5 separate regions of the Homo sapiens genome follow, and all the other regions are reported to be linked to region 5. Evidence: microRNA targets listed by miRTarBase, many of them from high-throughput screens and not tested one by one. Region 5 holds a microRNA gene; each other region holds the end of a gene's coding sequence. Distances are from middle to middle.

Region 1 (3,000 bases), 160 Mb from region 5:
AATTAGACTTTGCATTTTCACTAGAATTAGAAAGATGGAACAAAGAAAAACAGGAAATAAAAGCAGAGAAAAATAAGTTGTGAGATTCTATCAAAATGCTGATTATACTGGAAATTATTCAATTGAGTCTCCAAATTGAGAAAAACTTGTTTTTTTTTTTTTTTGTTTCCTGTTTGTAGAAAGAAAAAGACAAAGAAAACAACAATAAAAAGTGTAGAGTAGCAGTTTAGTTGCAAAAAGAAAGGAAAGAAAGAGGAGACGAGAGGAGAGGAGAGGAAAGAAAGCCCTTTCCCACCCCTCCTAAGAAAACACTGGAGTCTACATATTCCACACACACCTTCTGCTATAGAGTGAGGGATACAATATACTGCAGAAGTCTTCATCAGAGAAAGCTACAACGAGGCAGGAGAGCAAGCAAGTTTTCAAATGTTTCTCATCAGTAGGGGCTAGAACAAATAAGAGTTGGCCCTTCATTTATTAGAAAACTAAATAAATTAAGTTCATGTCCCAAGCCATTCTGATTAATCAAGGATTTCTTTTTATTTTAAAGTGAAACAACAGGGGGAAAAACAGTCTGTATGGCAATTTTAACATTTGTCTCTGTTTATTTTTCTTTGAGTGGGCATTTCTATCTATCATTAGCTCAAAAAAACTTAACATTCATAGAATTAAAAATTGCATAAGGGAACAACAAAAGAATAACAACTCCTTCCAACGATAGAACTGGGGCTTAGTAATGTTTATGGGTGTGAATATTGAGGTGTCAAAATTGCAGAAGAGAGTAGGCAAAAGGCCTTTATCCAAGATGGCACACTTTAATGATAGCTCACCATAATACTTAGCACTAGTAAAGACCTACAAGTGCTTCTGAAGTGAAATGTATCATTACTTCCAGTTTCCAAAACATTCTATAAGTTGAGCCTGGCTTTTGTCTTTTGAATCATTCTGCAAGGATGTTTTTGAATTCTCAGCTACTCTTGCAGCAAATCAACCCTTTACTATTTAATGAGCAACGAGTATATGAAAAATAGAATTGTCTCAATCCTAGGAAAGGAAACTATATTTCTCTGCCTTCATTTCCTCCTGTTGTCCCTGCTTTTTCATTTTTTCCCCACCTAAATAGAACCACACGTGTATATATACGTATATAGAAAAACTTCTCAAAACTACTTATTTTCACAGGGGCCCTAGCATATGGCCAAGACCATCCTTTGTGATACTTTTTGTGTAATCCTGATATAATGTATTTGGCACAGAGATCAACTGGTTACTAGTTTACATAAATTCTATTCTATACAAATATTAGCAAGTAGAGCAATCTGGAATATAACAGAACAATGACCAAATTACAGATCATCTGCTAAAGAGAGCAGAATACACAGACAATAGCCCAATGGGGTGTTCAAGGGCATCACATGGTATAACAGATGTTAAAGGACTCTAAATGACAAAGCACTTTGGACATTAAGAACATTATTATTGTTGTTATTGTGGCATAACAACTGATACACTATGGGAAAAATAAATCCCTAGAAGGCAAAAAGCTCTGGTCAGGTTTAATATAAGGAATCATTTCCTCTCCATGTGTAACAGCTGGCACTTGGCAATGAGAATGTAATGTTTGGAGAAACACACCTTGGGCCTATAAAATAGAAATTTGAATATACAAATATATATTATGAAGTATGATAGGATACAAATTGATGTAAAAATATGCTTTGCTGTCTCTATTTCATGATTTTAAAAATCATATAGTTTTGTGTTGTTGGATGTTGAAGCAGAGTTAGCAAACCCTTTGGTTACTTTTTAGGAATGTTTTCACAGTATATGTTATTACAGTGTTGAAGTTGGTATCTTACATGTTAAGTAGCCTTCTGAAATATTTAGCACTCAACCAAAAATAACTAAACATTAATATAGATCATTCTAATCACATGTTCAGTTATACTGTTGGTAGTAAGAATGGATGGTAAGAGTGGAAATTCATCAAGATTTGCTACTTGGCCCATTTTGATTTATGTGTTTGAGATAGTCAAGTAATCCTGAAGTGTAGGATGTCCATGAAATCTTCATTGTTAATTAGGCAATGGCCTGAGGCTTTAGCTGTAGGAAATACTGTAGAAAGATGGTATATTAGGAAGAGATATTTTCCCATCCTTAGGCTAAGTAGTAAGATACTTGCACCCTGATAGCAGTTCTTGGGTCAGTGTTTGACAATCAATCATTCTTCAAGATGGCGGAACTGCTGAGATTCAACAAGCCATTGAGTCAATCACCTTGCCTCATGAAGCCAAACTCTTTTGGCTTCTGGAAGTTACTCACTGTTGAACAATTCTAGGCAGCTATCTTGAAAGATAATCTTCCCATTTCTTAGGTCACAGTTGTCATGTCACTGGCCTTCATCTCAATTCCAGTTAAATTATAAAGTGCGGTACGTAGTGTTGAACCTCCAGAAAGAACATCATGAGCACAACCATCCTCCATGAAATGCCAAGTTTAAATTACTAGCAGAGTCACCATCCACATCTGAGAGTGTACAGGAACTTGATAATCATTGTTGTTGTCTTTATCATTACCATCATCTCCATTAGCATCATCAGCATCACAGTTGCAGTATGGGGATCACATTAAGTGATGCGGCAAGATCAGGAAAACCATTATCAAGACAATGTCCAGTTTGGATGTGTAAATATTATCCTGTGCTTCTTGGCCCATTTAGCAAACACTTTCTTTTCAGTGATAAACCTATGACCCCCATATGGGGCATGTTCATGAAGAAAATATTCATCACACTCATCTCTTCCTTGTTCATAATAATGGTAGGGGACTTTTCTATACCCTTCTGTCCTAGAAAAGAAAAAAAAAGAAAAGGAGAGAAAGATTGAGATGAAGAATGAAGCACTCATTTACAAGAATCCATTATGTGCCCAGTAAATGCATTTACTCACAAACCCATACATGATTCTTGTCCATGAACTCAGTTAAAAGCTATTATATGTA
Region 2 (6,934 bases), not on the chromosome of region 5:
GCATTATAGGGGCAGACAAAACTGGGGAAGGGCTATATTTTCACTCACCTCTGGTTAACTTTGTGTATTTTGTCATTAAGACTTACATTATGTTTGGGTCAAACAAAAAACCCAAAGAGATTTTATAAAAGTTTACAACCATTAAACAGTATTGTTTAATCCCACAAATGGATAAAGCAAACTACTATAGCTCAACAATACACAAACCAGGACTAAAAATAGTCAATCTATGTATATAGCTAGCTACCATACAATAGATATTGAATATGCTGAGTCTTTACAAAGGCATTGACTATTTTAGACGAGCAGGTTCCAGAAATACACTTGTTTGTTTCCAATGAGAACTAACTGTAGTGCCATTTCAGTTGAAGACTATGCACTCCTCAGTGTCAGACGTGAGGATAAGCAAACTAGGGGAAGGCAGAGGAGGGTTAGGAGGGAGACCTGAGCGGACTCTTTGGACAGCTCAGCATTACTTTCTCTGTGCAGATCCAGACCTGGTTCACAAAGTAGAACAAAGTGTATTGAAATTTTTGGCCCTCAAAAAGGGCATTTGTACAAAGTCCCATACTTACAGCACAGATTGAATGGTAACTGAGTGCCTCTCAAAATGAACTCTTCTATGTTAGAAGAAAACTCAGGGCCAAAGGTTAATGGAAATCAGTGTTTGAATTACTGTATAAAGATAATTTATTCCAAAATAGAAAAAAATGAATTTTAGAGAAGTATTCTCCTGGAAACTAGCAGGGGGTGGGCAGAGAGAGAGAGAGAGAGGGAGAGAGAATCATGCTATGTGTTTTATTACTTAGAAGAAGAAAAGTTTTGTAGACCATTTCCATAAGGCATCTGTCATTCTCCCATACCTGGCACCTTAAGAGAGAGTGCAATGGCTCGATATTACCTTTGAAAAGGCTTCTTTTCCTTTGAGTTGTCTTACAGAAAGGGTGCCCTGGATTGACCATGCCACTCCGGGGTCACACTTCTCCTTTAGATCAAAATGAAAACAACAACAAAATCACAAAAAGAAGAAAAAAAATCAGAAAAGCTACAAAATTGAAGGCCTCAACAGGCACAGACTTCCTATGAGGTCAGAAAATCAGTGAAATAATTAAAATTACAAAGCACCTCTTGCAAAATACACTGTTTTTTGAAAACCACACAAAACGCTTTGTAGTAACCCCTGCTGAGTGCTTAGAGGTAAGTATCCTGAAGGACACATGCTTAGTCCCATGAAGGAAGCTTGATTTTATTATCAAGGCAGCCGAGGGGGTCCCAATGCTTCTTTGTTATTTGCTGTTTTATAATTACAGACAAAATGGAAAGTCAAGAAGTGCGTAGACCTCAATATAAAGAAAATGTTTCTCTAATAACTAGGAACCATGCTGTATTTATGTATTCATAGTTGTATAGCTCCATTTGTAGATTCTTGCAGATGAGTCACTAACACTGACACTTTTTACACAAAATCCCTTTTGCAAGGACATATTAAATTTAATAGGCTAAAGAGAACTTATGCAATATAATGCTTGAAATTTTACACATGATAGCTGTGCAGTGGTAATAAAGAGGCCTTGAAAAATTGTTTTTGTCTATAAATTACTACTGCCCTTTAGAAATAAAAGCTCCCTCACAACCCCTGAGCTACTTCCCTGTGACACACAGTGCCACAAACCTCATGGTGAAAATTCAGTGCCAAACCTAGCTTCAGATGAGTTTTGTACATTTGTTTCTATACAATCAGGAAAAAAAGAGATACAATTTGTATCAACAAAAGGTCATTTCTGGTTATTTGAGGCATTGCTCCTAGCCGCTTTTGGTTCATACCAAAAAGAAGAATGAGAGGAGAATGACAATCGTTTTTAGTAAATCAGAAATACATATGCTGCCTTAAAAAATATTTTCTGTATTGGGAGGAGCTTACACAGTTTCTGAGTACTAAATATGAACATGTTCAAGACGAATTGTAGGTGACAAGATGAATCTTGTGCTTCTCTGTAAATTGTACAGCTAGTGGATAGTGTGGTGCCATTCATGATCTTGGTAGGAAGATGAACTAACTGGCACATAGGCAGTAGCATCATCTGAGATTGTCAAATACCCTGATTTAGACACGAGTCCGATTTAGAAAGTCCAAGAAGTTGAAGGTATGAAATGGTGTTTGTGTGAAATAGCAAGCACTGCAGTGGCAACTGTCACTCTGTGGATCTACCTGATTGATAGAAAATACTTTTACTCTTTTTCAATATGCTGGGGTATACGAAGATCAGAAGATAGGAGATAGAATGTAAAGCTGTGGTTAACTCAAGTGAAACATTGGTTAAGATGCAGTATTGATCAACTTGGACAGAGACAGAAAGCCAGAAAGCAGCATGCAAGCCATTGTCAAACCACCAGAAACAACCCTGACTACAGCCTCACATTCAGAGTGTTTCACAGTAAGAAACATTTATAGGCAGTGTCACACCTTCTCATGAAGAAACAAAAGGCCAAGGCCCGGCCTTCTCAACTTTCATGAAAAAACGATCATAGAAGTTAGCAAGTTCCAGCTCAGGAAATAGTGAGCTGATCATGGTTCGAAATATTGAAATATACAATGGATTCAAAAAGGGAATTCATTTAGTGCAGCTTAAAAAAAACAATAAACACCTCTTCTAGAGGCATTTAGCTATGAAGTTTTCCACCCTGAGCAAGATACAAGTTGCGCAAATGGTGTCGCCCAAACCAAAAGTCCTGCCTTCTAATAACTCATTTAACAATTATTTAACAGCAAGTGCACTCTTTGCATGGATTTAAAGTGAGTAACTGAGCCAGCTATTAGTAAAGATGCAGTATCCCCTTTTGGAAACTTCCTTTTTCCACAAATAAAATCCCCTGGTTTTGTTTCCTAGAGAAATTCTGTTCCACCAATGATTGACCTTATTACCCAAAGGGTGGACAGGAAGAGAAAGTGGATACATGGCTGTGCACTGTCCTCCATTACATTTCATCCAATGATGTTGAATACTGCATAGGTCAGAAGTCCAAAGAGCATCCAATAGTCCCTCCTTGAGTGAAGCTTTTTTATTCACCATTTAATGCCACATGGGTTTGGCCATCTCTCCTGGGATAAGGGAAGTGGATTGTGGTAGTAAGTCCCCTGGTCCTTGTCAAACTCTTCTGAGCTTGTGTAGCACACACATACTATGCTTGGAACTTGAGCTTAACCATCAGTTTCTCTGCAGAAGACTGCAACCTGATCCCTAATTTGCTAAGGTGAAGAGACTTGGAAGGTAAGAACTGTTAATAAATGTTGGCAGGTAAAATGTGCAAAGGAAACAGAGTTGCTTTGCTCTGGTGCCTAAGAAAGCAATGTTCAAATATTGCCATATAATTTCTCTCTCATAACTAGTTAAAACTATGAAATGTGACTTAAAATCATCAAGTCAGATTAGTGACCTATACAGCTATAGACGAAGGACTGTGTAGAGCCTACCCTCTCATTATCACTATATAAAAGGTTATACAGAGATACACACACATCTCAAACCAAATATATATATTCATACATGCAATATAATTGCTAATAATAGCTTTAAAATATAGTTCTAGAAGCTTCAATGTGACCCTATAGTTTCATTAATATAGATTGAGTGATCAGATATCCATGCAATAAAGTATGCATTTACTTTTAAATAGCTTTAAATATTTCTATTAGAAAAAACCTAAAAGGTTAATTCAACATATGATCTGATCCTGATGCTTTTGCTCTCTAAATTGGATATATCATCCATACTTTGTAATATAGAATATGTGACTACGAAAACTCTGGTAGGCTGGGCGCAGTGGCTCACACCTGTAATCCCAGCACTTTAGGAGGCCAAGGTGGGCGGATCACTTGAGGCCAGGAGTTTGAGACCAGCCTGGCCAACACGGTGAAACCACGTCTCTACTAAAAATACAAAAATTAGCTGGGCATGGTGGTGCACGCCTGTAATCCCAGCTACCTGGGAGGCTGAGGCCATAGAATCACTTGAACCCTGGAGGTGGAGGTTGCAGTGAGCAGAGATAGTGCCACTGCACTCCAGCCTGTGTAACAGAGTGAGATTCTGTCTCAAAAAAAAAAAATAAAGAAAGAAAGAAAGAAACGAAAAGAGAAAAAGGAAAACTCTGGTAATGGAATCCTCTGGGATTTCTTACATCTAGACCTCTCCCCCTGGGTTTTGTCCTCCATTACCTGCATGGTGCAGTGCAAAGGGGCATGGGACTTGGATTTAGAGGACTTGGGTGTGTGTCTTGACTTAGTCATTTGCTAGCAGTGTGACCCTGGCTAGCCACTTAATTTCACTGACCTTCACCTTCCTTCTCTATAAAAGAGGATGTTAGTAAGACGTACCTCACAGGGTTGTTAAGCGCTTAAATGATATAAACACTCTAACTTGTAAAGCGCAACACAAATTATTAGTTACTATAATTATTGTATTAGTGTATTATTAGTATTAATATTCATATTTGTATAAAGAAATAAGTACTATGTCATATCAACGTGCAGCCCTAAGCTTAGCAACAATCAAGGCTGCCAGTTGCTGGGCATCTGCTGTGTGGGGATTCTTCTCCATCACTGCAAGGACGATGTTAGAAGGGAAAATATTGCAGAGGTTCTTGTAGGTCTGATACTGGTGTTCTGGGATCATATGCTCCCTGGAATCATTGCACATTCCAACCCAAGGATTCCTCCAAAGCTGCTCCATCTTTTCAGGCACGCTCCGTACCATGACTGGCTCATAACATGGTTGCATGAGGCTGTTACTCAAGGGATAGGAGTGGTAGCCATAGGAGTCAGTTGTACAGGGCAGCGGGTCCCAGCTGGCATGCTGTTCCCGGCACAGGGGAGGTCGTCTTTGCCTCACGGGGTTGCTCTCATAGAGGCGGGAGTCGGAAATGCTATCCATCCGAGTCATCACCAGGGCACGGCCTGGCTGGGGGGTTGCCCCAGGATGGATATTGGGAGGCATGGGGTAGTCTGCAGGACAGCTGGAACGTGTTCCAGTTGATGGGTGCTGGGCATGCAGAGCTAAGTGGGGGACTGACTGTTTGTGGGGGCCTTGCTTAGAATCCTCTGGGCCATAGCTCTGCACTCGTGTTAAGGCTTCATGGTAACCATGAGGAAAAGGCTGAAGTCGGTTCTGGGATGCTGAGCGGTGCAGCTTCAAATTGCCTTCAGGATGGGTATCAGCTACAGCCAAATACACGTTGTTGTAAGAGGAATAGTTGTCATTCCTGGTATGGCTCACACGGCTGTCAGAACAGAGGTTAGGATTCCGGGCATACACCCCCCGGTCTACTTCAGCCATGTAATACTCTCGGTTATGCATGCTGTTGATGTTCAGTTTGGAGAAGTCACCTAACATTGAATAGTAGCCATGGTCCCCCATGGATTCAAACTTTGGGTATTGCTCAGCATAGCTAATAGGGGTCCCATGGCTGTTGGTAACCAAGATGGGAGGATACTGCATGCTGGCCATATGCTCCAAAGAGGCCTTCTGGTGGGGGAAATGGGAGGATCCTGGCACTGGGCTGCTGGCCGAACGGGTGTTGAGTGCACCCACTGCATGGCTTTTGGGGGGTGGGATTGTGGGAACACTTAGGGCAGTCACAAGCGAGGGGACAGAACTAGCCTCAGGCTTACGGGCAATGGACAGCCATTCCTCAGGCTCCATAGCCACAGACCGGATGCTGGGATCTGATTGGCGCTTGGGGGCCACACGTTTGACCTCTGAGGTTATCTCACCTTTGGCACTAGACATCCCTGTGCCACACTTGGCCAGGGTGCCTTCACTCATAGTTTTCACTGTGGACAGTTTGGCACTGATGCGGAGCTCATCAGCCACCGAACGCTGGGGTTGGTTGGCCCGCTCCGGATGGTAGTATTTGCACTTGTGGCCGTAGGTGCATTTTTTGCCTGAAAAATAATGCCTTGGGGTAAGACTCTCTCTCAGTGATGGAACCCTCTGTGCCAAAAACTGTTGTAACAATCTGGTCACTCAGGTTAGGGTTTTACTGTTTGGGGTAAAGGCAGAAAATTAACTGTCCACAAAGATGAGAGACAGACAACACCAAGGAGGCATCATACACTGTGATGGGAGAGAGAAAGTGGAAAGCTATGGAGAAAATTGCAGCATAAAAGCTAAGAGCTGGCTGGATGTGGTGACTCCTGTCTGTAGTCCCAGCAGTTTGGGAGGCTGAGGTGGGTGAATCACTTTAGCCCAGGAGTTCGAGACCAGCTTGGGCAACATTGTGAAACCCCGTCTGTAAAGAAAAATACAAACAAAATTAGCTGGGCATGGTGGTGCACGTCTGCAGTCCCAGCTACTCAGGAGCCTGAGGTGGGAGAATTCTTGAGCCTGGAAGGTCAAGGCTGCAGTGAGCCGTGATCATGCCACTGATCTCCAGCCCAGGTGACAGAGCAAGAGCAAGACCCTGTCTCAAAAAAAAAAAAAAAAAAAAAAAAGCTAAAGCTGAGCAGTTTTAATTTTTCGATAATGTACAACTTTGCCTAGGCATAATCTGCATGCTGAAGCAGCATAGAGTAACAGAAAGCAGCATAGTGCAATGCAAAGAGCACAGGTTTGGAGTCCAGTCAGATCTGAATTTCAATTCCAGCTATGTCCCTTACTAGCTGTGTGACCTTGGTAAGTGACTTTATTTTGTGAGCTTCATTTTCCTCTTCTGTAACCAAAGTTCATCATCATGCCTATATTATAGGGTCATTGTAAAGATTAAATGAGATAATGAATATGAAAATACTGTGTGACTTAAAGATTAATTGAGGACAAAAACCAAAACACCCCACAAAACAAATGATCATCCAAAAAAACAGACATTCAAAGTAGCCTCAGATCAAGCAGCCCATGTCGCAATGTTAGGCGCACAAACGTTGTATCAGAGGGACTGGGGT
Region 3 (6,934 bases), not on the chromosome of region 5:
TTGTCTCTGAAAAGAGAGAGAGAGAGAGAGAGAGAGAGAGAGAGAGAGAGAGAGAGAGAGAGAGAAGCAGAACCAAGATTGAAACCAGGCAGTCTGGCTTCATTGAACCATTCTGCTTCATTGCTTAAAATGTCAAGAGTTACCGAGGAGAAAATACTGTTTTCTAAAAAGCTACAGTCTTTAGATTGCATTAAAGAGAATGCTTTCTTTAAATTAGTCTTGATTAGATAGGTACCTTGCTGTCCTTGCCTTTATGTGTTTGCTGATTATTAACCGGATGATTTTCTGCATGTTTCTTCTTCAGGTACCAATGGAGGAGTTACAGTGGTGGGCCTTGTCTCCAGTCTCCTTGGTGGTACCTTTGTGGGCATTGCATACTTCCTCACACAGCTGATTTTTGTGAATGATTTAGACATTTCTGCCCCGCAGTGGCCAATTATTGCATTTGGTGGTTTAGCTGGATTACTAGGATCAATTGTGGACTCATACTTAGGGGCTACAATGCAGTATACTGGTAAGAACATTCCTTCATTCTTGCAACTTATTGGTATGTTAAAGAAATAGGGAAAAGAAAGAAAAAAATGTTAACAATGAAAACAAATCCAAAGACACAGGGTGTTGAGGGACTAGAAATGATAGGGCAAAGTCTCTTTCACAATTTTGGTTTTCTTATTCTTTTGTATTAAATTAATTGAAAGAGAATTAGTCCCGCGCAGCAATGATTAGAAGCCATGTGGGGAAGATACAATAGTGCAGAGAACAGACGTTTTTGTGTGAGCCATTACCTAATCCCAGAAAAGCAAGACGTTTGGGATCAGATCATTTTAATACAATTCCTTCCATTCATTTTCCTATTCCATTTGAGGAGTAATTGTACAAATCTGACTATACACACGACCTACTTTCTTACTGTGGTATCATGCTTGCTATTCTTGCCCCTGAGTTTTTTGCTTCATTAAGATATATGGTCGATGTCTGGGCACGGTGGCTCACATCTATAATCCCAGCACTTTGGGAGGCCAAGGGGGGCAGATCACTGGAGGTCAGGAGTTCGAGACTAGCCTGGCCAACATGGTGAAACCCCATCTCTACTAAAAATACAAAAATTATCTGGTGTAGTGGCGCCTGCCTATAATCCCAGCTACTTGGGAGGCTGAGGCAGGAGAATTGCATGAACCTGGGAGGCGGAGATTGCAGTGAGCCGAGATCATGCCACTGCACTATAGCCTGGGCAACAGAGCAAGACTCCATCTCAAAAAAAAAGAAAAAAGATATATGGTAGAGTGGTAGATATTTTTCTCAAAATTTTCTGTGCTTTGTTTCTAAGGCTCTCCCATCCTATCAGTGTACTCACATATTCTGTTAGGTGTGTATTTGCTCCACACTCTCATCAACCATGTTTCTCCTTTGATTGACATCAGGAAGAGGTTGGAAGGCTAGAGAAGGGTTCTCTCAGTATAGTCCTCCCAGCACTCTTCATGCCTCAGAAAATCTATGTGCCCTTCCTCCCCCTCTCCATCAGTCAGAATATTTGTTCTCCATTTTGTTAGTCTCATTTAGATTTTAAGGACGAAGCAATCTGATCTTAATTCTCACTAAAGGGTCAATAACTCTACACGCACACACAGACAGTAAACATGTTTTTTAAAGAGTGTAGGTTTTATTCTAAATTGGGTTCTAACTGGGGAAGTTTCTGATTGCATTGAGTGGGTTGAAAAGAAATGCATGCAGTAGGGGAGATTTTGTAAATCTTTGTGTGCCTCCTTTGTGCCAGCCCCATGCTCAACCCTGCGTTTACAGTACTGTGGCCACAGACATGATCCCTACTCCCAAGGACGTCATAGATCAGTCTTGGAGGGGAACCACTGGGAAGGCAGGCCCAACCTGCCAGTTTCATGCCCTCTCTGCTTTTCATGTTCTCTCTTCCACTTCTGAAGCAATTCCAGAGGTATTGACAGAAAATTACTGAGAACCCATTTATTCAAAGAGGCCATTTGTAATCAAGGGTCCCATGTCTCTCATCATATAAATGATCCATTAAAGTCATTTAGCAAGTCACTTAGAACCTTTCAAAGATTGTCTCCTTTGGAGGAAAAAGCCTATTTTGTTCTTTTTTTAAAATCAAGTACATGTACCCTAGAACTTAAAGTATAATAAAAAAAAAAAAAAAGAAAGAAAAGAAAAAAAATGAAGTCATTTGGGTTTTCTATCTCACTTGCTTCTTTTTCCATTCCAGGGTTGGATGAAAGCACTGGCATGGTGGTCAACAGCCCAACAAATAAGGCAAGGCACATAGCAGGGAAACCCATTCTTGATAACAACGCAGTGAATCTGTTTTCTTCTGTTCTTATTGCCCTCTTGCTCCCAACTGCTGCTTGGGGTTTTTGGCCCAGGGGGTGAACTTTATTTCATTTCCACAGGTTGAAACTGGTGAGTCCAGCTAAATTTGCAATTCCAACTTTCATCCTAAGAATAATAACTGTAATGGCAAAGCGGAAATGCCAGTTCCTCCTGTATTCCATTGAGATGGGATTTCACATTTTCCTCTCATCAACTCCCCTGTAATAGCTAGCGTCTTTCTAGTGAAAGAGAAGAATTCCTAGAACTTATGCATTTTTTTCCTGCTGAATGGAAGTCTTGAGCAATGAAGCTATATTGTCCCTACATATTACTATATATTGAACTGAAAGTTCTTACATAATCAATGTCAAGTTTTGTCTTATTTTGTTTTGTTTGTTTAAACCAGTGTAGGAAATAAAAGTGATGATATTTAAAATAGTTCTCAGTTGAAGCAGAGAAATGCCACTGTGCTAGTTGCCCAAATGTTGTATCTATTTTAAATAGTTTAAGCTGATGTGTATGGGAGCCTAAACAAGTGTAGTATCCTGAACTTCTCCCATTAATTGCTATTCACAATTGGGAAAAGTGTGGAGATTGGTTCCTAGTGAGTTTTGTGGCCTACTCCACATTTGTTCTTCCTTCCTCAGGGTTAGTGATGAAAAAAAGTAAATATCTTTTTCATATGTCCATTAGAATGTATGAAAAAAATCATTTTAACTAAAAGCAAAAGAATTTTATCTTATATCTAAAAAATATATAACTTACTATATGTTTCAGTTGCTCTCTGAACAAAAATTATCTTCAATTTAATATGTGGAATGTGTTTTCTAGCTTTCTTTGAATTATGTATGGCAACCTGGTTTAGCACTGGCATCCTGAACAGTTAAGAGTCACTGGGAAATTATTGTATTTCTTTATAAATTTACTGTCATATCAATTGCTGGAAAATGCTATGATTTTTCTATTATTACCTTCTAAGTTGTATTCTCTCTTACACTGTAGCCTCAACTAAGGCAATTCTGCTATGTTTGTTCTTCACTATGATTTACTGTGTGCCAAAGGAGTTTTGACAGGGTACAGAGTATTTTACTAAAAGTATTTTTAAATGTTTCTCATGTGATTTCTGTACCTTCTTCCTCCTGCCCCTTTTGCTTTTTTAAAGAAACTGGGGAAGGATTTATGAATACACCACCACCAGAGTGGATAATGCTTAGAATTCTTTATTGGTGGCCCTACTATGGTGATGATCTAGAACTGACTTACTTCAGGACAGAAGAAAAAACAATCACACCCTTAACCTTTAAGCCAGTTAGATCAGGGGGTTGCAACAATTGGGTTAAACTTTGGGTATACATTGGAAGCACCAGGGCATGTTTGCTTTTTTTGTTTATGTGTTTGTTTTTTGAGACAGAGTCTCACACTGTGGCCCAGGCTGGACTCCAGCACAGTGGCATGATCTCAGCTCCGCCTCCTGGGTTCACGTGATTCTCATGCCTCAGCCTCCCAAGTAGCTGGGATCACAGGCGTGCACCATCACGCCCGGCTAATTTTTGTATTTTCAGTAGAGACAGGGTTTCGCCACGTTGGCTAGGCTGGTCTCGAACTCCTGACCTCAAGTGATCTGCCCATCTCAGCCTCCCAAAGATCTATTACAAGATGTGAGCCACTGTGCCCAGCCACCAGGGCATGTTTTTAAAAAAGTACTGATGTCTGGGTTTCACACTGCAAAATTCTGATTTATCTGATCTAAGGTACAGCCTGGATATTGAGACTTTTTAAAGCTCTGACTGTACATTGAATCATCATGTAAGGAGTTTTTAAAACATTGTTGCCAGGGCCCCTTTCTAGACCAAGTTAGTCAGAATGTTGGACAATGAGGCCCATGCATGGGTATTTTTACAAAGCTCTCTGGGAGATTCTAATGCTTAACCAAATTGAGAAGCACTGAATAAGAATATCCTGGGCCGGGCGCACTGGCTCATGCCTGTAATCCCAGCATTTTGGAAGGCCGAGGCGGGTGGATCACTTGAGGTCAGGAGTTCGAGACCAGCCTGGCCAACATGGTGAAACACCGTCTCTACTAAAAATACAAAAAATTAGGTGTGGTGGTGCGTGCCTGTATTCCCAGCCACTCAGGAGGCTGAGGCAGGAGAATCGCTGGAACCTGGGATGTGGAGGTTGCAGTGAGCCAAGATTGCACCACTGTACTCCAGCCTGGGCAACAGAGGGAGACTCCATCTAGACTCCATCTCAAAAAAAAAAAAAAAAAAAAAAAAAAAAAAAAAAAAAAAGAATATTCTAAGCACTAGAACTACATAAGAATGTCCTAAAGCACTGTATCTAAGCACTTGAAAAGAATGGGACTTTTCGGTTTTAGGGAGATAACTATTAGCAACCACACAATATGTTATCTTTATGGATGAATAACTTCTGGTAATGACACAGTGTCTTACAGCTACATCATTTATAAAATCATGTGTCAGTTTTCACACAGCCTGCACATCGTTCTGACATGCCCTTTTTTTCCCTGGAGATTTATCCTCATGACATACAAGGGGACAAAAATATTTATTGGGACTGTCTTTGAATTTAGTAGAATCACTGTATCATTAACAGTTTGGGGAAGTACTGCTTTGCAGTCCTTTATTTGAAAACTTAGGTCTAGCTGTGTTTTGCATCAAAATTTTTGAGCTATTCAAAAACTAATAGGATCTGTGTAAAATATTTCACTCAAAACTACTAAAAAAAAGTCTGGGATGGCAGCTCATTATCAAATATACTCCTATTTTTGTGGTGATTTATGAACATCCCCACTAAGTATAACTAAAGATCATAAAGAGCCTCAGATCAAGTTTGGTCAGGTTTTGTCACCAAGCTTTGTAAATAAACTGGTTTTCATAGCTTTTTGGAGATGAGAATTGAGGATAAGAAATTGTGTCTCTGTCCTTTTTTTTTTTTTTTGTTAAGTCTTACATGTATTTTACTGTAACATCTTTTGAATTGGATATTTAACTAATTCAACATATTTTTCCTCTTTGCAGAATGGGCAGTTCATGTTAAAATCACTTTTCATGGAAAGAGCTCTATGTAACAGCATAATAAAACTGCCTACCTAGCAGCATAAAGGTGTACTGTTTCTTATCATACTGTTCCATGATAGAAGAGAGCAGATATATGTGGCTTGGGGCAGCTCCTGAAGAAGACTTGCAGGAGTAGCATGTTGAAAACTCATTAAATGGAGCCACCAAGAGACCAAAGAATTGATACAGCAGGTCATTCTATTATTAGCTTTTCTCATTACTTGAGTTATCTGTTTCTCACATATATCTTTCCTGTTTCTAGCTGCTGTACACATAGGATGCTGCCTGCAGAAATAGCAGCCCCGCCCCAATTAGATAAAGGACTAGTATAGAGAAAAAGCATGTGAAATGATGTTTTAAACTTTGCCGCATACCTGTGATATGAACAGCTGCTGCCTGTTAGGCACAGTGGGTATACTAGGGCCCAATCATCTGATCTTCCTGAAGTTTTATGTAATGTTCCCAGTGCTATCACAATGAGAATGATCTATACTAGCCACCAGATCTCAGGTGAATTGTGGTGTGCTTTAAAAATGAAAACACAGCCGGACGAGGTGGCTTATGCCTGTAATCCTAACACTTTGGGAGGCCGAGGCGGGCAGATCACGAGGTCAGGAGTTCAAGACCAGCCCGGCCAACACAGTGAAACCCCATCTCTTAGCCGGGCATGGTGGCGCATGCCTGTAGTCCCAGCTATTCAGGAGGCTGAGGCGTGAGAATCACTTGAACCCAGGAGGCAGAGGTTTCAGTAAGCAGAGAGCGTGCCACCGCACTCCAGCCTGGGTGACAGAGCAAGACTCCATCTTGAAAAAAAAAGGAAAACACAATTATGTGGCTTAATTATTTAATCTCCTTTATGGAGTATCTGTTTTTATAACTCCAAGTGGTTCTTGATATTTTAAAAATACTTAAGCATTCAATATGTATTCATTGAATTAAGTTGTTTGACTCTAATCATTGTTTCTTTTAAGAATGACTGGAAGGTGATAATCAGCACCATATTCCTGGAGGAAAATACAAAATGAAAAACCAGTTTGGCTACCTGAATTTCTGAGAACTGGAATGTTTCCAGCATTTTTCAATCATGCAAAACAATATTAATGCTTTTGAAACTAATGAGCCAGGAAATTATTGAAGAAGTGAAGGAGTGGCAGGGCGAGGCTTGAAATTATTTTCTCTGACAAGACTTCACTCTCCATTTATCATAACTGCCCTCTTCAAAAAAAAAATTTTTTTTTGTAGATCTAATCGTGAATCTAGACAAGATTTATTTTTATTTATTTTTTATTTTTTTGAGACAGGGTCTTACCCTATTGCCCAGGCTGGAGTGCGGTGGCACAGTCATAGCTTACTGCAGCTTCAACTTCCTCAGCTCAAGTCATCCTCCCGCCTCAGCCCCCAAGTAGCTGGGACTACAGACTTGCACTACTACACCCGGCTACTTTTTTTTTTTATTTTAATTTTTTGCAGAGATGAATCCAGACTATGTCCTATGTTGTCCATAATGGGTTTGA
Region 4 (6,664 bases), not on the chromosome of region 5:
AAGTCAACCAATCTTCCTCAAGGTAAAACAGGGGCCTGTTTTTCTTTGAGTAATTATGTGATGTGCCTGACTTTCAGGTGTGTGGCTTTTAAATACAACAAATCAACATTAAAGATTAATTCATTCAATTACAAGGCAAGAATCTTTGTTGCCTATTCAAACATATTTTCTACTTTAATAAATTCATAGCTTAAAAAGCCAAAAGACAGTGAGATCACCAATAATAAGCCTCTAGTGTTTGGAACTCAGTCTGTAAGATCATTCTTTTTTTATCAAAATATATATGTAAGTTTTACAAACTATACATATATATAAAGTGCTCTCTAAATGATTTATATATGTGTATGTGTGTATGTGTGTGTGTGTGTGTGTGTATGTGTGTATATATGTATATTTTTATTTTTAGACAGTCTCATCCCGTTGCCCAGGCTGGAGTGCAGTGGCACGATCTCAGCTCACTGCAGCCTCCACCCCAAGAATCTCAAGTGATTCTCCTGCCTCAGCCTCCACAGTAGCTGGAATTACATGTGTGCACCACCATGGCCAGGTAATTTTTGTATTTTTAGTAGAGACAGGGTTTCGCCATATTGGCCAGGCTGGTCTCGAACTCCTGGCCTCAAGTGATCTGCCCACCTTGGCCTCCCAAAATCGTGGGATACAGTCATGAGCCACCGCGTCTGGGCCAAAATATATTTATTTTTAAGCTTTGGTATAAGTTTCTATACCCAGATATTCGGGGAAGCCTGAAGACTACCAATGTTTTGTTTTTATTATCTGAAACTCTGATTCAGAATTCATGAAATATATGTAAAAATTATATTTAAGATGAGAATTCCCCAAGACAACATTTTTATTGAGACCATTTTAGTCTCTTAAATCCTGGACTATATAAGCAATAAAAATGAAAACAAAACAAAACAAAGCAAGTTCATGTGTTCTCTAGATGATTCTAAATAAGTAGTTATTAACCCATCATTTTTCCATTTAACATTTTAACACATTGACCTCAAGGAGTTGCAATAAAAGGAATGGGTACATTATACAAAGCCATTAAATTATAAATGAATGGTATTAATGACAAATTTTCCCGGACCCAGAGGGAAACTCAGGGAAAATATAAAATTACCTTCAAAGACAACAAAATGAAAAATAAATGTGACATATGGACCTTAGGAAAAAATGGAAATCAAGTGCACATGAGATAAAAAGATAGGGCCAGGCATGGTGACTCATGCCTGTAATCCCAACACTTTGGGAGGCCAAGGTGGGCAGAGCACCTGAGCTTAAAACTTTCAGACCAGCCTGAGCAACATGGCAAAAACCTGTCTCTACCAAAAATATTATACACAAAATTAAACGGGAGTGTTGGCATGCACCTGCAGTCCCAGTTACTCAGGAGGCTGAGTAACTGGAGGATCACTTGAGCCTGGGAGGAGGTTGCAGTGTGCCCAGATTTTGCCACTGCACTCCAACCTGGGTGAAAGAGTTTAAGACTCCGTCTTAAATAAATAAATAAAAATTTAAAAAATAATAAAAAGAGATAAGGAGATAGGTATGAGATTTTTACTTGGTTTATTTATTTCAGTGTGTACAGTTGCACTATTTTTTTTTTTTTTATGATTGTAGTTCTTTTTCAAAGTTATTTCCCTCAGGAATTTCCTTAAATATGTATGTGAATGGAAGCATATAGCTTCAGAATGAATAATGCTTTTAATAAAATGAAGACTGAGGAAACTTGGAGAAATGTACCAAATCCATGATTCCCTGGACTTTGAGATTTTATATACTACTAATAAATTTTGTCCTTAAAAAGATTGAGGCTGGGCATGGTGGCTCAGGCCTGTAATTACAACACTTTGGGAAGGATCACTTGAGCCCAGGAGTTGGAGACCAGTCTGGACAACATAGTGAGACCCCAGTTTCTACAAAAAAAAAAAAAGAAAAAAATTAGCTGGGCCTGGTGGTGCTTGCTTGCAGTCCTAGCCACTCAGAATGCTAAAGCAAGAGGATCGCTTGAGTCCAGGAGTTTGAGGCTGCAGTGAACTATGATTGCACCACTTCACTCTAGCCTGAGTGACAGTGAGACTCTCTAAAAAAAAATTTAAAAACAAACAAACAAAAAGAAACAGTAGAAAGCATATAGAATCATGGTAAGAGATAGCATTTATAAAAAAATCAAAGAAATATAGCTTCATGAAAAACTCCCTACATTGCCCTTTTAATTTTTCTGTGAGGAGATAGCATTGAGAAAATACATGACACTCTGGCCAAATAGCACTCTCTGAGCTAAATATTTAAAATATTAACTACTTAGTAAACCAAATCAGTGTCAGTTACAAATCAAGCAAATTGTGCCTCCTTTTATGAGGATAAATGTAAAAGCTCACCTGATTAATCTCACAACTACTAGTGGTACTGCCATTTGGTACATTTTTAAGATTACCTCCTGAGCATCCAGTTTTCATTATTATGCAAATTAGCTAAAACAAAGCTCAAAATAACTCCAGTTACCTTCCCAAATAGCAGAATAGAAATCAAAAGGATGGAGATTAATCCCATCAATCTTGAGACAAGAAACCGGAAAACACCAAAATAGGAAATTTCATAAATGAGTTTTTTTCATAGATGAAACCTGACTGAAATTTGCTGGATATGTATATGCCTCCTATCTATGAAAGAACACTTAAGATCGGTGTCCTATAGTTAGCTCTGATCATGGACACTAACTAGTATGTGCCTGTTTCAGTGAAGATACTGTGTTTTGTTATACCATGATGTTTCATTCAAGGAAAATTAAAGTCCCAGGATGCTTTACGAAAACAAACTTCCTGTTAGCAATGCAGTAAGTACTCTTGGCTATGCTGGTACCTAATGATTTACCCAACTTAGGTAAAGAAGTTACCCAGCTAAAGTATGTCTAGGTCTTGTCAGCGCAAGTAGTTGACAACCAAGTCCTTACTGTCCACTAGACCTACGTCTTGATTCCAGAGAGAAAGAAGATTCTCCAAGACTGGGGAATGACATTCCGGGAGTGCCAGTACCACCTCTGCCTCCATATTGCCAGGAACAGACTGAAGATGGCCTTCTCTCAGGGTTGAGACCAGGAAGGGCCATCCTGGGATGCATGGCACATGCCAGCTCTTGGGGACCAGAGTCCATTCCCATCATGCAGAGGCGGCATCAGCTACGGAAAAGAATCTTCAAAGTGGAGGGACAAGCCTGGCATCCCTGTACAAGTTCCTCTGGATTCCTCATAGTTTCCTCCTTGCAGTACGCACAAAGGCACCCAGTAAATGAACGTTAGACCCTGGAACACTTCATTCTTCATAGAGGAGAGGGACATGCCTAAGTTAGTGAAGCAAATATGCGGTAAGTTCCCCGATGGTTCTGACTTGCCTGTTCAGCACAGGCTGTGCAGTCCCTTCTCTTCATTTTAAATCATTCATGAGGCAAGAACAATCTAGGTTAATCCAAATTAACATGGCCCAACATTGTTCCCTTCCTGGCTGAGCCAATTACTCCCACACGTACTACATTTTCTGCTGCATATACAACTTCAAACTACAGCTCAAGTTTTTTTCTTCAGTATGGTAAAATTCAATGTCATGAACCATGGCTAGGTTAAAATTCTGATTTAAACATTTTGGTGACTATATTTCTAACACTTTTTAGTTGCTTCAACACCTAATGGAGTTATAAAAAAGAAAAATAAATATATATAGCTCAGATTTTAATTCTCCTACTCTGCAACTCCAAATAAATTCAGAAAAATGTCTCAGTTTCATTTATTCAAAAAATGGCAATTTGTAGTAATAAATGCTAATCTGGGAGGCTGATTTGATTGTTCTAATTACCAAAAAGCTTAGCATTTTTTTTATTAGAAGAAGGGGAAGTGGGGAAGACAGTGAATATATAAAATATTACTTCCACCAAGCATATTTTTCTGCAATAAATGCATGGCATTTAATCAGTAACTATATAAATGTCCTCCATGGTTCACTGAATCTTTTACCACTCCATCACCATCACCGGCCCCCAAGCTATTTTGTATATGCGAGGACACGCGGGTAATTACCTGGACATTCCCCTTCTTTTTCCTTATGTAAAACAGTTGCCTGGTGGTTACTGTGTTTACAGATTTCTTGTATGCTGTGCTTTCAAGCATTAAGAATTCAAATTTATCTCACTATAGAAACAAGAACCCAAAGTGCCAAAAAATGATCATAAATACCAGTTGAACCCAACGGGTATAATACTTACATAATCCTCACTTTCACCACTTTTTCTTTCCCAATGAGGTAAGAGACAGACTATAGGCTACTCCCAAAATACTCAAAGATTTTTTTCCCTTTTTTATTTAACCATGTGTAATGTAACCCGTAAGAATGGAACCAGGTTCGTCTGAATCCATTGTGTCATTAATGTCCCTTTGAGAATCAATTCCATTACACTGGCCTTCACACATTCCACAGGACATTTCCTATGTCGGAGTTTTCTAAACTATGAAATTGTTATTCATTACTCTGTGAGTTTTGGAGAATCAAGACATGGAAGAGACATCCCATCAGTCTGTGCATACCTATGCATCGTGACATTAAATTGTCACCGGGTATGTACCCAAACCATTAAATGGGACCTTGCCTCAGAGATCATAAAGGCTACACCCTTTTGTAAGTAAAGCAAGGAAGGTCTGGGAAGGTTGGAAGTGACTTAAAACCCATCCAAGTCACTAGTGGCAAAATCAGGACCGAAATCCGGTCACCATAAAGGCCGGCTCCATGCTTGCTTCCGCATCACTGCTGTCTCATAGCACAATTCTCAGGTGGCCTTTCCTGGCTCTACCATGAATATGATAAAAATAAAAATAGGGGATGGGATAGAACAGAATAACCATTAGTGGTGCCACAATTTACAAACACAGGTTTCTATAAGATCCTGTCATTCATTTTTTCCCCAGCCTTCAAGATCAAATCTATTTATTGTCTTTTAACGTGTTTTATTCAAAATCTTTCTTCTTCTTAATTAGTTACATTTTCAGAGGGTGCATATGCATAGATGCAGTAAGTTTTCAGTTTAACTTCTTCTGAGATAGTTTACTGACATTGCCCTAGCTATTTTTTTCAACAAATAATGTTGGCATTTTTTTTTTTTTAAATAGAGGTGGGGTCTCACTATCTTACTCAGGCTGGTCCTCAACTCTTGGGCTCAAGCCATCCACCTGCCTCGGCCTCCAAAAGTGCTGGGATTACAGGCGTGATCCACCGTCCCTGGTCTATTTTTTTACTTCTATCCAAATATATTCAGAAAAATGGCCAATACAGTGCTCTGTTCTCTGATAAAGTAGTTATTGAAGGGGACTAGAAAAGTAAAACAAACAGAACAAAAAACCCAATAGTCTTTATTACTTCTTTTTAATTGTTTAACTTTATTACTGTTGCACCATTTATACAATTACATATAATTTCAATGCATCCATTGTACATTTTTTTGTTTTTTTTTTGTTTTTTTTTTCCATTTTCCAATGAGTGGTGTGTTGGTGTCTGTGACACAGAATGGAAGAGAAACTGGAACTGCAATGAACGCAGACTTTTTTTTTTTTTTTTTTTCATTTCCACTGACCAATAAACAGAACTACAGGTGCACCCAACCACGGACATGCATTAACTCGTCATGAGAAATCTAGGTAGGCTAAGTAGGATGAGAGAATGTTTGTCACTCCCAAAAATATCTGGAGAGGAAGAATGGAGGATTGGCATTGAGATCCATGTGGACAAGCTAAGTGGGCTCTGTCTGAAAGCTGGCATTCATCCACAACATTAAAAAAATATCAAAATAAGAAAGGCTGTAAATTAAAAAGAAAACACAGAAAATACTGCTCTCATAAAGATCTGATTGCCTTGGCACAGGCCCTGTGGGCAGAATCAAACGCATCACTCCCAACTCCCATTGCAGAAGAAAAGCTATTCAACTCTCAGCGGTGGAGGAGTGCATGTGGCGGCAGTTTCAGGTACAAACGATGTACTGCACTTTCAGACGCGGATCTTGGAAATCCAGGACTTCTTGGTAAAGTTGACTGAAGGTATATTAGATATTTCCCCACAAAAATACTATTTGGATTCTCCCACCCCCTCCCTCCCTTGATGGGACAACATCCTGTATTTTTCCTTGGGCAATACATATCATTACTTCCAATTTGAAACAAGTTAGTATAGGAGAGAGAGAGAGGAGAGATAGGAGAGGAGAGAGAGAGAGGAGATAGAGAGAGAGATAGAGAGAGAGAGAGAGAGAGAGAGAGGAGATTGTTTTAAGTGGTATTGTTTTTCCTATAGGCTGTCCTTGTCACTCTTTCACGGTTACGGTTTGGTCGGAATTAGCTGCCGGGGCCTCCACCGGCTTGGGCTCTTCTGCAGAGGCTGCGGGGCCCTGGGCCTTGGGTGTGGAACTAGGCGCTTCCGTGGCTGCGGGGGTCTCCTTGGAAGAGGGGGCAGCCTCCGAGCTGCCGGGTTTTGAGTCTGAAGCTGGGGCCCCGTCACTTTTGGTCTCCTGGGCGGCAGGAGCTGCGGGCGCCTCAGTCTTTTTGGGTTCCCCTTCCTCCTTGCTGGGCTCCTCCCCGGCGGCAGGGGCCGCGCTCTCGGCCGGGGCCGCGGCGGCCTCAGCAGCTTTG
Region 5 (6,934 bases):
CGCCTTGGGACTGGGCCTGAAAGGGGAGGAGTTTCTCATCTCTTCAAGCTTTCAGGCCCCGGGGACAATCTTTCAGTGAGGAACTAGTAAAACTCCTTTTCCTTTCCAGTTATGGTAAATCTTTCCCTCTTCTCAGCACTCTGCTTCAACTCTCTCCCATTCATTTCCCGCAAGCCCCTCCCCTCTCTGGGAAAAAGTAGGGCACTTTCCCTCGTGGGCCTTTTATAAACAACAAGAGTGACTTCCGCTTCTATGGCGTAGGTGTGGGGATAGTCATCTAATATCCATTCTATTCTCAGATTTCTCCAGATTTCCTTCTAATTCAGTATTCAGTCCAGATTCACGCATTACATTTGGTTGTTACCTCTCTTACATCTTTGTAGTATACAATAATAATTGCATTTTATATACATATGTAGGTGTTCAAACACCACACACACACAAACACAATTTACTTTTGGAAGAGTTCAGGCTAATAGTCTAGTAGAAGTCCCACGGCATTCTGTCAGTCTGGATTTGTCATATGGTTTCCCCGTAGTGTCATTTAACTTGGTTTCTTGGTTTCCATATAATTTGGAAGATAGGTCTGGAGCAGCACTGCCCGACAGATCTTGCTGTGAGGATGGCTGTTCTTCGTTGGTGCTACCCAATACAGTAGCCACCAGCCATATGTGAGAGGGCTAGGATGATAGAGGAAAAGAAATTCTAACTTGTTTAACTTAAATTATTCTAAATTTAAATCTAAACAGTCACATGTGGCTAATGGCTACCATATTGGGCAGTGCAGGATGGGATGCTTTATTAGATCCAGGATAGACATTTTGGCAAGGATAGATGATGTCGTGGACTTACTGCTTTCCTTTGCTGGAGGGCATCTCATTCATTCTCTGTCTCCCTTTCTCTCTCTCTTTCTCTCCCTCTGCCTCTCTCTCTCCCTGTTTCTTATTGTGAACTCATGAATGCTTTTTGAAGCTAGTTTTTGAATTCTTTCACATAGTTTGATTTAAATTAGTGTTTGGCACAACAAATTGTCACCAGTTCACCTTGACCAAACCTAAACTTGGTATTAACTGGTTTGTTTTTTGTTTGTTTGTTGTTTCTGTAAGGAATGGTATTTAGAAACCAGGATCAGGGAACTAAATTTGCTTGTTGCTACTGTGTCAATGTTTCTAAACCCTTTCAGTAGAAACCCTAAGGGAAATTACGTTTATAATCTTTGGTTCACACTATATTTTTCAATTCAAATTTAGTATTACAGAAAAATTAAGTGGGAGAAAATTAATATTATGAGTGTTCTTTTTCTTGGTTTCTTTTTTTTTATATTTGTATCTCCTTTCCCTTAGAAAAAAAATTATGGTGGCTAATATTATCAACCTATCTCTTTAGTTTTCTACAATATTGTCTCAAAATTAGAATATCACTACTAACAAACCCATTAATAAATTTAAGGTATGCTTTCAGACCTTTTCTTTTTTTTTTGCCCTTAGACTTATACATCCCATTAAAATGGGTCAAAGAACTATTTTCAAAAATTATTTGAAATAATTATTTTTTTCTCTGTGGTTTATCAAATTGATATATAGTCGATTTCATTTATTGCTGTTTATATTCAATTTTATGTAAAAATGGTTTTTCTCTTATTTCTTATGATTACATTTTCTATTCTTTATAAATGTAAATAAAAAGCATTTCACTTGTATTGTAATTTTTACAATGTACTACAATACAATTATATCACAATTTTTCACAACTTTTTCTGTAGAAAATGTATTCTAGTATTAATAAGTTGAATTGCCGGGCGCAGTGGCTCAGGCCCGTAATCCCAGCACTTTGGGAGGCTGAGGCAGGCGGATTACGAGGTCAGGAGATCGAGACCATCCTGGCTAACACGGTGAAACCCCATCTCTACTAAAAATACAAAAAATTAGCCGGGCTTGGTGGTGGGCACCTGTAATCCCAGCTACTTGGGAGGCTGAGGCAGGAGAATGGCGTGAACCCAGGAGGCAGAGCTTGCAGTGAGCCGAGATTGTGCCACTGCACTCCAGCCTGGGCGACAGAGCTAGACTCCGTCTAAAACAAACAAACAAACAAACAAACAAACAAACAAACAAATAATAAGTTGAATTATTGACAGACCTTAACAGTAAAACCCATTTTTTAACTTTGAGATTGCATGTATTCTGTGAAATTTGAGGCTAATGTACCTCCCCCACCAAAAAAAATGGAAGTACCTCTTCTCCAAAATATGTGTCATGGGCTTTCATGCTGTCCTGTGCACTTGTGACAACTGTATTGATTATTTCGTTGTGGGGTTTGTTTTTTTCCTTTAATTTAAACAAACATTGATGGAAGCATTCCTCTTTGCCAAGTATTTTAGTTCTTGTTAATTACTGATATAGCCTGTAAACTGCATGGGGACAGGGGTCCTGTCTGTCACATCCATCCTGTCATCCCCACTCATAGTACCTCTGGCCCAGCATAGGTGCTCCATAAATGAATATTGAATCATGGATACATGATTAAACAATTCTCTGGGCTCCACTCTCCATGTGGAAATGGGAGAATCATTCAATCAAATCCATGTTACATTCTAACAAAATTCTGATGCATGGCCACCTGGAAAAAAATTGGGCCTCCCTGCACAGTTCTTTTACATTTTAATGATCTCTGTGTATGCCACTTAAACACAAAATAGCCCTCAGGTTTTCAAAGAGGATTAAATTGTGTTTATGGGAGCCTCTCATTAAGGAAAAAGTGATCAGAATACTTGGCTCTTGGAGCCTGGCGGTCCTTTGCGAGACATACCACATGAATAGACTACCACTCTTTCTATTAAGGACAATCCATCACATTTTCCAGTTGGGATGGATGATAATGCCACATTTAGTTTTCTGTATTTTTAAGCATCATCTCTTCTTAACGGGATGTGTAATGTGATTCAAACTGATGTGATGAGGCAGACCATTAACGAAATGTCTTTCAGTCTTTGCTTGATTAATAAATATTTCCTCTGCATTTTATTATGGGCAGCTTGCAGAGGGAGCCAAAGTTTATTGCTTTTTTGTTTTTAATCAGTGAAGTAACATCAGCTATTATGCATAATCAGTTCCAGCTTGTACATTTGTAATGTTTTGATTTAGAATAGTAAAAAGGAAAGAGGACAGTGAAGGCTGCCACGTTATGAGAGAAAATTCTGGTAAATGCATGACAGTTCAGGTGTCTCTCATTTTTGCTTTTTAAATGCTTTTCTACTTTGCCCCCAGCTCCCAGACATATATCTAAAAAGAATATCTTTCTTACACCTACCAATTTTTACCAGTCTTCTACAAACAGTAGTTCTCAAAGTGTGGTTCCCAACCAGCAACATCAGCCAGTGTAGCCTGAGAAATTGTTAAAAATGCAAATTTTCAGGCCCTACATAGTCCCACTGACTTGGCAACTCTGGAAGTTGGGTCCAGCTGTCTGTTTTTACTGGTCCTGTTGGTGATTCTGATGCAAACTCAAGTTGGAAAACTATTGTTCTAGAAAGAGTGAAATAACATCCTCATCTTAATGATTAGATTCAAGTAAATGAGTAGACATTCAAATTCCCTTACATTTCTAAATTGTCATTTGGCTTTTTTTTCCTATGTGCTATGGGTGTTTAGTTTAATTTGAGAATCAATATGACTCATGCATGACACTGGAAAGGTATTTTTATTTTCAAGGTACAGAGAGTAAAGTCTAATGGAGAAAAACACATTTTACTCATTAAAAAAAAATGAATCATGTCATCGGCATAAAGACGTCATTCTTCAAACTGGCGTTAAATAAATCTCTGTAACAAAGTTAATGTGGCTTTCTAAATTGCTGCCATCATCATGATGTTACAGCCAGTTCTTCCAGAGTAGAATTATCTGGCCTCTTGGTTTTTTTTTTTTTTTTTTGTAATTAAGCCTTTTATCCTATTATTTTGCATTTAACTGTTATTAACACATATCATCAAAGATGGATAGGACAGAGAAAGGAGATGTCACCTTTGGATTATATCTGAAAGGGATGTTATAAAAATAAAAAAGAAACCAAACACCAAATCCAATCCTTAGAGGTTCAGATAAGAAAGCAATGCTCAGGGAAGTTAAATGACCTGTAAAATTCAGATATTTTGTGTTTTAGTTCAGTATGTTTTCCACTGTTTGTTATTAGTAATTCTTGTCCCTACTTAGAAAAAGATTTTAGAGTTATCAACTCAGAAATACCTTTTTTTTGGCATGAAGTCATGAGTGAATTTGACCTTAGCATTTTTCTTACTGTCCCTCTTCTCACTAACAGACATGGACAATTGAAAGCTACCTAAAGGATTTGTAGCAGTATTTACTTCCTCAAATGTTGCCAAGCAGAATAGCAAATTCATTCCAGGACATTTTTTAATGTGTCAAAATCATCCTAGTTCTTAAAAGTATCGGAAATGAACAATGGTCCATCATACAGTTAAAAGCATTGGTTCAGAGCCTAGTGTTTTTTTTTTTTAATTTATGTTAATCACTTAAAATAGGTAATTGACTCTCAAATTAATCCCTGGAAAATTAAAGGAACATCTGGTGAAGTATATTATTTTTGGGCTTTTTATCTAAAAGTGGTTACCAAGTGGGTTCTTGCTGGGCTAGAAAAATTCTAACCTCCACTTCCATTTTTTTCTCCTTTTTAAAGTTAGCCAAACAATTTTCATGCCACATAGAAGTTTAATAGCTCCAACTACAATGACACATTGGCAATCTGAAGGATGCACTTGCTTAGCAGTGACAGAAACTTTCTCACTATATCCTTGCCCTAGTAATGGCTTCAGAGAGGTGGAGCATAGTGATGGTAGAATATCAAAATTTGCAATTCTAAAATACTCAGAAGACACTCAGTTACATCTTTAATTTGAAGTAATAGGAATTCTTGAAAAGCAATTTTAAAATAATATTAGATCTCAGATGCACTTTGGTTGATTACCTGAGCCACCTCCCCCACCCCTTTGCTAAGATGCTCCCACGTGCTTTAGGGCAGTGCAGGGGGTTTGTAGAAGGACCAGCAGCATCAGTAACACCTGGAAGTTTTTTGGAAATACAGACTCGTGGGCCCCACCCTATACCTACTGATTTCTGGGCTCCACCCAGAAATCTCGTTTAATAAACTCTCCAAGTAACTGTGGTGCTCACTCAAGTTTGAGAACTGCTGCTCTTTAGGGGGTTGATTATGTCTGTTTTATTCTCTCTGCCGGTGATTATTGGCTTATAAAATATACTTAATGCAATTCTAGCTGTTGTGACCTAAAGAGATTTCTTCTGTGAGGGTGCTGGCGATGCTTTTTTGCTAGTTAGAGGAAGGAAAAGTAAGAGGTTGACGCTATTTTTGCCTTTGGGCACAGGCATGTAAAAATGTGATAATGTCGTGGCTGGGAAGGTCCCATGCTGATGAATGTAGAGTCAGAATACGGAAAGAATCTGACTTAACCAAATCTGAAATCATCCTGCCTCGGGACTTTACTTCATTTTGTGAAATTTAAAAACAAACAAAAAACCTTTTACTGCTTGAAGTGTTTTGAGTTCCGTTTTTTTTTTGTTTGTTTGTTTGTTTCTAGTAGCCAATATCCCCTCAGTGGTACACTTAAACACGCAAGGTCATTTATGGCATTTTGCAAGAAAATCTTATGGTGAATTTCAGTGTTACTTATAGCATGGAGGCTGAGGGTAAGAAGCTCACCTGTTTTTATATCACTTCTGTTTTAAAAACTTTTTCAAAATGTTAGAGGAGTATAATTTGGAGAAATTATCTAAAGTTATGTTTAATTACGTCTCTCCTCCATGCTAATTGTGTATAAATAGTAGTTGTCCTTCCGTTAACATTTTGAAGAAGGGATATCAATATAATAATCAATTTAGTTGTTCAACTGGTATTTAATTTGCTTTCTTTCTAGCCCCAAGGGAGCATATCATTACGGGGTAGGGAAATGTAAATTAATCCAAAGCTAAAATATCTTAAGAGTTATCACCCCTTTGTATGAAATTCCCTACTTATTCCTCTGAAGAGTTTTTTTTTTTTTTTTTTTTTTGCCTATTATTCTGCATGTCCAAATAGCATTTAAATACTCAATTTCTGGGAAGTTGCTTTATAAAATAATTTTGAAATATTTTATAGAGATGTAAATTATTTGTATATATTTACATATATACATATACTGTGTAATTTATATTTTTGACATTATAAAATATTTTCTGAACTTTTTAAATTTATTTATTTATTTTGAGACGGAGTCTCGTTCTTTTACCCAGGCTGGAGTGCAGTGGCACAATCTCGGCTCACTGTAACCTCCGCCCCGGGTTCAAGCGTTTCTCGAGCCTCAGCCTCCCTGGTAGCTAGGACTACATGCTTGCACCGCCACCATGCCAGGTAAATTTTTGTATTTTTAGTAGAGACAGGGTTTTACCATGTTGGCCAGGCTGGTCGCAAACTCCTGATGTCAAGTGATCTGCCTGCCTTGGCCTCCCAAAGTGCTGGGATTACAAGCGTGAGCCACCGCACCTGGCCATTTTTTGAACTTTTTTTTTTTTTTGAGACGGAGTCTTGCTCTGTGGCCCAGGCTGGAGTGCAGTGGCGCAATCTCGGCTCACTGCAACCTCCACTTTCCCGGTTCACGTCATTCTCCTGCCTCAGCCTCCCTAGTAGCTGGGACTAAAGGCGCCCGCCACACGCCCGGCTAATTTTTTGTATTTTTAATGGAGACGGGGTTTCACCATGTTAGTCAGGATGGTCTCGGTCTCCTGACCTCGTGATCCACCCACCTCAGCCTCCCAAAGTGCTGGAATTACAGGCGTGAGCCACCACACCCGACCCATTTTCTGAACTTTTTAGATAACATACTGCTCTATATTTCCTCTTCAAATCTATGCAACTGTACTTTTTTTTCAAG

The links. Region 5 holds the annotated microRNA hsa-miR-3123 (CAGAGAAUUGUUUAAUC, at 2,518-2,534, opposite strand). A microRNA usually pairs through its seed, bases 2 to 8, with sites in the 3' UTR of a target mRNA and lowers its output. Matches are read on the target gene's strand: a 7mer-m8 pairs with bases 2 to 8, a 7mer-A1 pairs with bases 2 to 7 and ends in A, and an 8mer does both.
Region 1: the mRNA of ST6GALNAC3 is a reported target of hsa-miR-3123. The part of its 3' UTR that is shown has no 7-base or 8-base seed match.
Region 2: the mRNA of ZC3H12B is a reported target of hsa-miR-3123. Seed matches in the 3' UTR shown: 7mer-A1 at 2,886-2,892, 7mer-m8 at 779-785 and 7mer-A1 at 719-725.
Region 3: the mRNA of TMEM19 is a reported target of hsa-miR-3123. Seed matches in the 3' UTR shown: 7mer-m8 at 3,324-3,330.
Region 4: miRTarBase lists BASP1 as a target of hsa-miR-3123. Seed matches in the 3' UTR shown: 7mer-m8 at 5,701-5,707.

What each region holds. Positions count from the first base shown.
Region 1 is chr1:76,628,467-76,631,466 of GRCh38, reverse strand. It overlaps ST6GALNAC3 (ST6 N-acetylgalactosaminide alpha-2,6-sialyltransferase 3), which reads right to left. Exons shown (of 5, transcript NM_152996.4): 5 at 1-2,847. The coding sequence ends at 2,661. Among named protein-coding and RNA genes, the nearest start is that of LINC02567, 150 kb to the left of the region's middle.
Region 2 is chrX:65,500,793-65,507,726 of GRCh38, reverse strand. It overlaps ZC3H12B (zinc finger CCCH-type containing 12B), which reads right to left. Exons shown (of 10, transcript NM_001010888.4): 10 at 1-5,938. The coding sequence ends at 4,518. Among named protein-coding and RNA genes, the nearest start is that of LAS1L, 31 kb to the left of the region's middle. RefSeq lists enhancers at 4,414-4,914, 4,915-5,415.
Region 3 is chr12:71,698,596-71,705,529 of GRCh38, forward strand. It overlaps TMEM19 (transmembrane protein 19), which reads left to right. Exons shown (of 6, transcript NM_018279.4): 5 at 305-514; 6 at 2,237-6,452. The coding sequence ends at 2,400. Among named protein-coding and RNA genes, the nearest start is that of TMEM19, 16 kb to the left of the region's middle.
Region 4 is chr5:17,275,576-17,282,239 of GRCh38, reverse strand. BASP1 (brain abundant membrane attached signal protein 1) reads right to left here. Exons shown (of 2, transcript NM_006317.5): 2 at 5,406-6,664. The coding sequence ends at 6,340. Among named protein-coding and RNA genes, the nearest start is that of BASP1, 61 kb to the right of the region's middle. RefSeq lists an enhancer at 6,106-6,606.
Region 5 is chr1:241,127,920-241,134,853 of GRCh38, reverse strand. MIR3123 (microRNA 3123) reads right to left here and starts at 2,582; the gene lies at 2,508-2,582. All of the region lies in intron 2 of RGS7 (regulator of G protein signaling 7), which reads left to right.